Homo sapiens: one gene and its partner. The protein of the gene in region 1 purifies or fractionates together with the protein of each later gene. This does not show direct contact. Each region holds a gene or a part of one and is shown in the gene's direction. Other genes may lie near its edges.

Evidence for each region.
Region 2: the proteins of THSD4 (region 1) and ZNF195 purify together in Homo sapiens (affinity purification with mass spectrometry; 2 studies listed by BioGRID and IntAct, with this or other methods). This does not show direct contact.

The regions. Positions count from the first base shown.
Region 1 is NC_000015.10:71,776,347-71,780,100, forward strand, and holds part of THSD4 (thrombospondin type-1 domain-containing protein 4 isoform 1 precursor), read left to right. Parts: intron 1-885; coding exon 886-1,028; 3' UTR 1,029-3,754. UniProt on the Homo sapiens protein: Promotes FBN1 matrix assembly.
Region 2 is NC_000011.10:3,358,401-3,362,154, reverse strand, and holds part of ZNF195 (zinc finger protein 195), read left to right. Parts: intron 1-265; coding exon 266-412; intron 413-1,366; coding exon 1,367-1,435; intron 1,436-1,589; coding exon 1,590-3,037; 3' UTR 3,038-3,754. UniProt on the Homo sapiens protein: May be involved in transcriptional regulation.

The DNA.
Region 1 (3,754 bases):
CATTAGATATAAAGAATTTTCGTGAATCATTTTTTAAAGTTAACTAAATCAGAAAATGAGCAAAAGATCAGAAAAGCAATTCACAGAAAAGGAAGCTTGAATGGCAAATATACATGATATGTTCAGCCTCACGTGGGAATCATTTCACATTCACTAGCTCAGCAAAAACTAAAACATATGGCAAAAAGAGAATTCTTCTGTTTCACTGACAGGAACATAAACAGTTATACCGACTTTGGAGAGCAAACTGACTGTATCTAGCAAAGTTGGATATACCTTATGACCCAGCAAGGCCCAGGCAGAGGATGGTAACAAAACTACTTAAAAGCATTGTTTGCACTAGAAAAAAAAAATTGGATTAATGTCCAACTTAAATGTCCATCAATAGAAAATGATTAAATTGTGGATTATATACACAAGAAAATTCAATAATGAAAATATAGCATTCATCAAATATGAATGAATCGCACAAATTCAATGTCGAGCAAGTTGCCAAGGAGCTTATACAGTATGTATCTTTTATGTTTAAATGTCACAGAGTGGTGAGGGATTCCCTCACATAGAGTTTAAGTGTAAAGAAATGTTTGGGGATAAGAAACGCCAAATTTGGAACTTCTGATTACCTCTGGAGTGATGAGGATGAAGGAGGAAGTGATCAGAGAGAAGTGAGGACACAGATGAGTAACTTATTCTCTATACCTATTTCCCTTATCGTGTTTAAAAGAAAGAGAAAAACCTGTGAGCCCTTGGCACACATTCATACCCCACAATGGTAATAAACAGCAGCGCAGGAGTTAAAGCCACAGCCACTGCCCTTTCTCTTCCCACTGGTCCAGGCTGCCTCTTGTGCTCAGGGAGTCTTCTGTTCATTCTCTTTCGCTACAGATGAAAACTGCAAGGACAAGTACTACAACTGCAACGTGGTGGTCCAGGCAAGACTCTGTGTCTACAACTACTACAAGACCGCCTGCTGTGCCTCCTGCACCCGTGTGGCCAACAGGCAGACGGGCTTCCTGGGGAGCAGATAACACTCCTGCACCCCCATCAGTAGGGCAGCATCACTGCCTTCCCGGGGGCTTCAGCAGTGCGCCTGGCTGGCTGCTGCTCCACCACGGGCCCCCTGGCCCAGGCGCTGCCAACCAACTTAGTCACCACCCCTGCCTCCGGTGAATGCACCCCGTGGTACCCAGGGGCTTTTTACACAAGATGTTTGAAAGCCACAGTCAGTCCTTTAAGCATCACCATGTACTGATGATCCCCTCCTTGGACCTGGCATCTGCTAATGGTGCCCTTTGAAAGTCAAGCAGTGGGAAGTACATGGAGCTCTCAGCCCTGCTCCCATCTGGCACCTTCAAGTCAGCAGATGGGCCACTGACTGAGCACTGCCCCGTCCCTGGTGCTACTGGTCTTTCTAAACTTAGCACCCTGGAGAGTCCAAGGAGGCAGCGCCCCCAACCCAGCGCCCCACTAAGCCTTGCTGACACGCGTGCATCCCTCTGTGACCTCAGCCCAGATGTGCCTGTTTTCATTCTCAAAGACATTAGACTGTTTTCCTGCCCTATGACACAGATAGCTCACATGAATATTGTGCTTTATTTAGCAGGTGTACTCACAGATACTAGCTCCTTAGCAGCTCACAACATCCCAGAATGGGAGGCAGGGGGTGACTCATTATCCCCATTTTACTGACAGGGAAACTGAGGCTCAACTTAAGTAATTGACCTGCCAGGTATATTCACCCATCCAGTGGAAGAGCTGAGTCCCCGCCCCAGTCATCTACCAGTATCCAGCCTGGGGCCTGTACTTAGATGTGAAAGGTGCTGCTTCATTTCTGACCAAGAGACTGAGAAGTTTCCCAGAATGCAAACAAAGCCCAGGCCCCTGAAATCTTTCCGGTCAAGCCTTTATCCCAGCACTCAGTTGTTTTGGATGTCTGTTCCTACTTGCCCTTACCCCCAAAGTTACAGATCCTAGTTACAGGACTCTGCCAGCTTTGTTAAACTGTCCGTGAGACAAGAAAGCCATTGGGGAAACCAGGTGATTGCCTGAAATTCTTACTCCGTTCCAAGTGCTGTTCCTCCCAGGAAATCAAAGGCCAGGGTCCTTATGGCCGTGGAGCCTTCCCGACCACAGAGCCAACTTGTGAAGCACACAGCTCTGCAGCCTGGGCTCTGCCCTGCCTCAGCCGCCTCCCCCACGCTCTTCACCACGTTCCTGGAGAGTCCGGCCAACCTGTCCCAGCCGAAACACTGCTGTATTAGAAAAAGTCTCTTTCTGGTCTTTCTGGTTTTGTTTATGAATTTCCCTCTGTGGCCACAAATTCCTCCCCTCCCCCATGACTCACAGTCCATATGGCCCACCCCCAGACTTGAGCACCAAGCTCTGCATTAATGCAGTTGGCCTGCGACAAGGAGCTGTGGACCCTTCCCCATCTCTTCCAATTCACTTTCCCCAACTATCCAGTTCCAGAGGCCGCAGGCCTGGAAGGATGCAGTGCATATTGAAAGGTGGACCCTCTGAAAACAGTTAAGAGGAATATATGTATGTTTTACCCATTAAGAAAAAATGGCAAGCTAAACAAATGTTAAACTTACAGAAAATTTGTCTTATGGTCCTGAGCATATTTCCCTTTTAGAGCAAGCCTGGATTCTTAGCAAAGTGTTTCCCCCATTTGCTCTTTTAGCTGACAAATCTGCCACTGTGATGATGGTTTGCAGCTTTTGGAAGCAGTATGGCAACCTGGCCTGACATGCTCTTTAGGCTTCCACTAACCTGGGGCTTTCAGAAATTCTATTTGGCCTTTCTGTGGGTAGCTTTCCAGCTTCTCTTCTAGGGAGCCCCAGGCATCATTTCCCAAAAGCATCCCCATCTCCTGATTCTCTTGGAACTCCTACAGATAAGCATCCTGGCAGAGGCCCAGGCTCCCAAACCGACAAAGTGAAAAGAGACCAGAGAGGCCAAGCATATTGACTGGTGCTGTTCAGGGCCTGCTCTTTTCCACTCACCACTTGTTTTGCTGCTTGTCACGAGGAGAGTTGTTCCTGTATGTGGCTGCTCTCAGATCTTTCCAAGCAAGCCAGTCATTTGAAGAGGTTTTCTTTTCATGCTGGAGGGCAGGCTAAGATCAATGAGTGGAAGAGAGAAAGGCTGTTTTAGCTCAAGTTAAAGGAACACCTTCTAGCCATCAAAGCCGCCCAACAGAGGCAAGGGCCACCACACATGAGAGAGCGCTCTGTCCTTAAAGGGAATTCTCTGTTGAGTGGGAGGTGAACACCCTGGTTCTTCCAACTCAGGAATTCTCGTGGCTGGGCTGGGTCAGTGATGGCTTTGTCTCTTTATGTCTAAAGTGCCCTATGGCTGCTGAAGGTTACCTAACCATTCTTTAAAAGGAGAATGACCCTCCATGGGAATGGCCAGCCTGCCAACTGTGCAATTGAAGAAGACCCGATGGATCAACCCCATGTCTCCCTTGGGGAGAAAGTGCATAAACCAGGGGTCTCTTTTTTTTTTTCAACAAACCATTGAGCTGTTCTTGGAGTTCATCTCTGGAGAGGTTATACATTATTAGAAGTTTGATTATTATTATAGTTTGATCAATTTATTTGTCTTAGAGATCCAATTTTTACTAATTCCCTAGTTTTTTATTTCAGCATCTGAATGTCTTTCTCCCTAGCACAGTGCATACAATCAGGGCCTTGGGTATTTCCAGTGATAACTTTCCTTGGAGAGGATCTAAGAAAAGCCCAGATTTCGG
Region 2 (3,754 bases), on another chromosome or scaffold:
GGACACTGGTTATATTATTCTTGCTTGGAAGTTTTGTGTTCAGCAATTAGACTATCTCATCCAATTCCCTTCTTGCTTCAGGTTGTACTTTTTTTGAGACAGGGATTTATTCTGTCACTCAGGCTGGAAGTGCAGTGGTGTGATCGTGGCTCACTGCGGCCTCCACTTCCCAGGTTCAGGTGATTCTCCCACTCCAGCCTTCTGAGTAGTTGGGACTACAAGTGTGCAACAGCATACACAGCTAATTTTTTTGTATTTTCTGTAGAGATGGGATTTCACCATGCTACTCAGGCTTGTCTTGAACTCCTGGGCTCAAGCGATCTGCCTGCCTCAGCCTCCCAAAGTGCTGGGATTACAGGTGTGAACCACCGTGCCCAGCCAGGCCTCAATGTTTCTGTGGACAAATTCACTGGTAATCTCCTAAGAGCATGTACCTTGCTTTTCACTTGCTGCTTTCAGGATTCTTTTCTCCTTTGACTTTGGAAACTGTGGTTATAATGTGTCTTATGTCCCTTTTTGTTTATACTAGTTGATGTGTTGAGCTTCTTGATTTTTTTGTATTTTTTTCTTACTTTTGAGAATTTCTCAGTAATTATTTCCTTTCATACCTCAGTTTCTCAGTCTGTTTTTCATACTTCATGTCTTTTTATTGGTATCCTTATTTTCCTAATTTTACTTAGTTTGCTGTTTTGCCATTTTTACTCATTGAGCATTATTCAAATGGTAATTTTATTTTCTTCAGTTAATTTATGCATCTCCATCATTTTAGGGTTGATTTCTGAACTTTTTTTATTTCTTTGATTATGCCATGTGACCCTAATACTTTGTACATGTCATCTTTGACTGAGATTCAGGCATTAACAACAAGCCTCCTGCCACAACCTTTATAATGTGCCTTTCTCCTGGGGTCATCTAAAACAAATAGGCCCAGATTCTAGAGGCCTCTTAAGCCTGTTCTGGGATGTGTCTTGTGTGGAATTGTGTGTGTATTTTTCATTTAAAGAGGGTTTCTCAGCTTTCTTTGTAGTGCCCTGGAATCACACAATACACTTGTCGCCTGGTGCTGCTGCTGCAGCCTTCCTACCGCTGTCATGGGTATTTCCTTTCGGTCTCAGCAGACCCAGCCTGTCACTCAGAGTACCACCATTTCTCTCAGCACTCCGTGTCACAGGGGGCAGAAACCAATCTTTGCCAAAGCTTCAAAAGGCCAAAAGTAAAAACACTTGTGCCAGTATTTGCTTTCTCTTTTGAAGGAGAAGCCAAGAGCTGAGGGTGTACTCTTAAAGGCATGATGCTATACTGCGGAGGAGCGGGGGCTGCAGTGGGTAAACGTAACAGACTGTTTTTCTTCTTATCTGGCTCCTAGCACTGTGCTCACCTGGGGTGCTGCAAACTGTGAAATGGTTTTTAGAGTTCAGATGCATCTTCTCACTAGGTATTGTTACATTTATATGTTTATACAGAAATTAGGGCCTGTGGTATTTTTTATGCCATTTTGCTAATGTACCCAGTATTATTTTATAGATTAGATTCATAAAGTGTATTCATCTGTGTCTAGTAAGTCGGATAACTTTTTTTTTTTTTTTCAGCTATGTCTTCTCATTTTACCCAAGACCTTCTGCCAGAGCAGGGCATACAAGATGCATTCCCAAAAAGAATACTGAGAGGATATGGAAATTGTGGCCTTGATAATTTATATTTAAGGAAAGACTGGGAAAGTTTAGATGAGTGTAAGTTGCAAAAAGATTATAATGGACTTAACCAATGTTCATCAACTACCCATAGCAAAATCTTTCAATATAATAAATATGTTAAAATCTTTGATAACTTTTCAAATTTACATAGACGTAATATAAGTAATACTGGAGAGAAACCTTTCAAATGTCAAGAATGTGGCAAATCCTTTCAAATGCTCTCATTCCTAACTGAACATCAGAAAATTCACACTGGAAAAAAATTCCAAAAATGTGGAGAATGTGGCAAAACCTTTATCCAGTGCTCACACTTTACTGAACCTGAGAACATTGACACTGGAGAGAAACCTTACAAGTGTCAAGAATGTAACAACGTCATTAAAACTTGCTCAGTCCTTACTAAAAATAGAATTTATGCCGGAGGGGAACATTACAGATGTGAAGAATTTGGCAAAGTATTTAACCAGTGCTCCCACCTTACTGAACATGAGCATGGTACTGAGGAAAAACCCTGCAAATATGAAGAGTGCAGCAGTGTCTTTATCTCTTGCTCAAGCCTTTCTAATCAACAGATGATTCTTGCTGGAGAGAAGCTCTCCAAATGTGAAACATGGTACAAAGGTTTTAACCACAGCCCAAATCCTTCCAAACACCAGAGAAATGAGATTGGAGGGAAACCTTTCAAATGTGAGGAATGTGACAGCATCTTCAAGTGGTTCTCAGACCTTACTAAACATAAGAGAATTCACACTGGTGAGAAACCATACAAATGTGACGAATGTGGGAAAGCCTATACACAGTCCTCACACCTCAGTGAACACAGGAGGATTCACACCGGAGAGAAACCCTACCAATGTGAAGAATGTGGGAAGGTCTTCAGAACTTGCTCAAGCCTTTCTAACCATAAGAGAACTCATTCTGAAGAAAAACCCTACACGTGTGAAGAATGTGGCAACATCTTTAAGCAGTTATCAGACCTCACTAAGCATAAGAAAACCCATACTGGAGAGAAGCCCTACAAATGTGACGAATGTGGAAAAAACTTTACCCAGTCCTCCAACCTTATTGTACATAAGAGAATTCATACTGGAGAGAAACCCTACAAGTGTGAAGAATGTGGCAGAGTCTTCATGTGGTTCTCAGACATTACCAAACATAAGAAAACCCATACTGGAGAGAAACCCTACAAATGTGACGAATGTGGAAAAAACTTTACCCAGTCCTCAAACCTTATTGTACATAAGAGAATTCATACTGGAGAGAAACCCTACAAGTGTGAAAAGTGTGGCAAAGCCTTCACCCAGTTCTCACACCTGACTGTACATGAAAGCATTCATACTTGAGAAAAAAATAAACAAATATAAAAATAGGCAAAGCCGTTAGTATCTGCTCGCATCCCACTTTACATCAGAGTTCAGACTTAATAAAGTTATCATAAATGTAATTACTATTGAAAGACCTTTCATGAAATATAAGTCTCCAGAGCACACAAGAGTATTTCTTCTGAAAAAAATGTTACAATTATACTAGATGGAAGACTTGCATCAGTTGCTTAAACTTTCAGAAAATTTGTAGAGAAACCCAACAAATCTCATAAATGTGGAATAACATTTGTTCAAAAATGATAGCTTAGAAAACACTAGAGTTCATACTAAAAGATATTTTGCAAATACACTAAATGGGAAAAATAAGCAAGGACACGTTCAGAAATGACACTGAATCCCTGTGTTGAGTCTACAGAGACATCTAGACTTAAAATAGATCATTTATATTTAAGTTTAAAAGGAGGATGAGACTGAGTTTTTGTAGAGTTATAATTACATTCAAAATATACTTTTTTGCATTGAAAAAATGTTAAATTTTTGAAAAGCGAATATTGATGTCATTCTATTCTCAAATCAGTAGATGCTGTGTCTTCATTTCTAGTGCTGATGTGAAAACACATGGTCAGTTGTTGCTGCGTCAGAGATATGAGAAATTCTTTTCTCTTAGGTGTGCATCACTGATATACTTGTCCGTGAAAGGTGAAAGACACTGAAATGTAAGATGCGTGAGTAAAA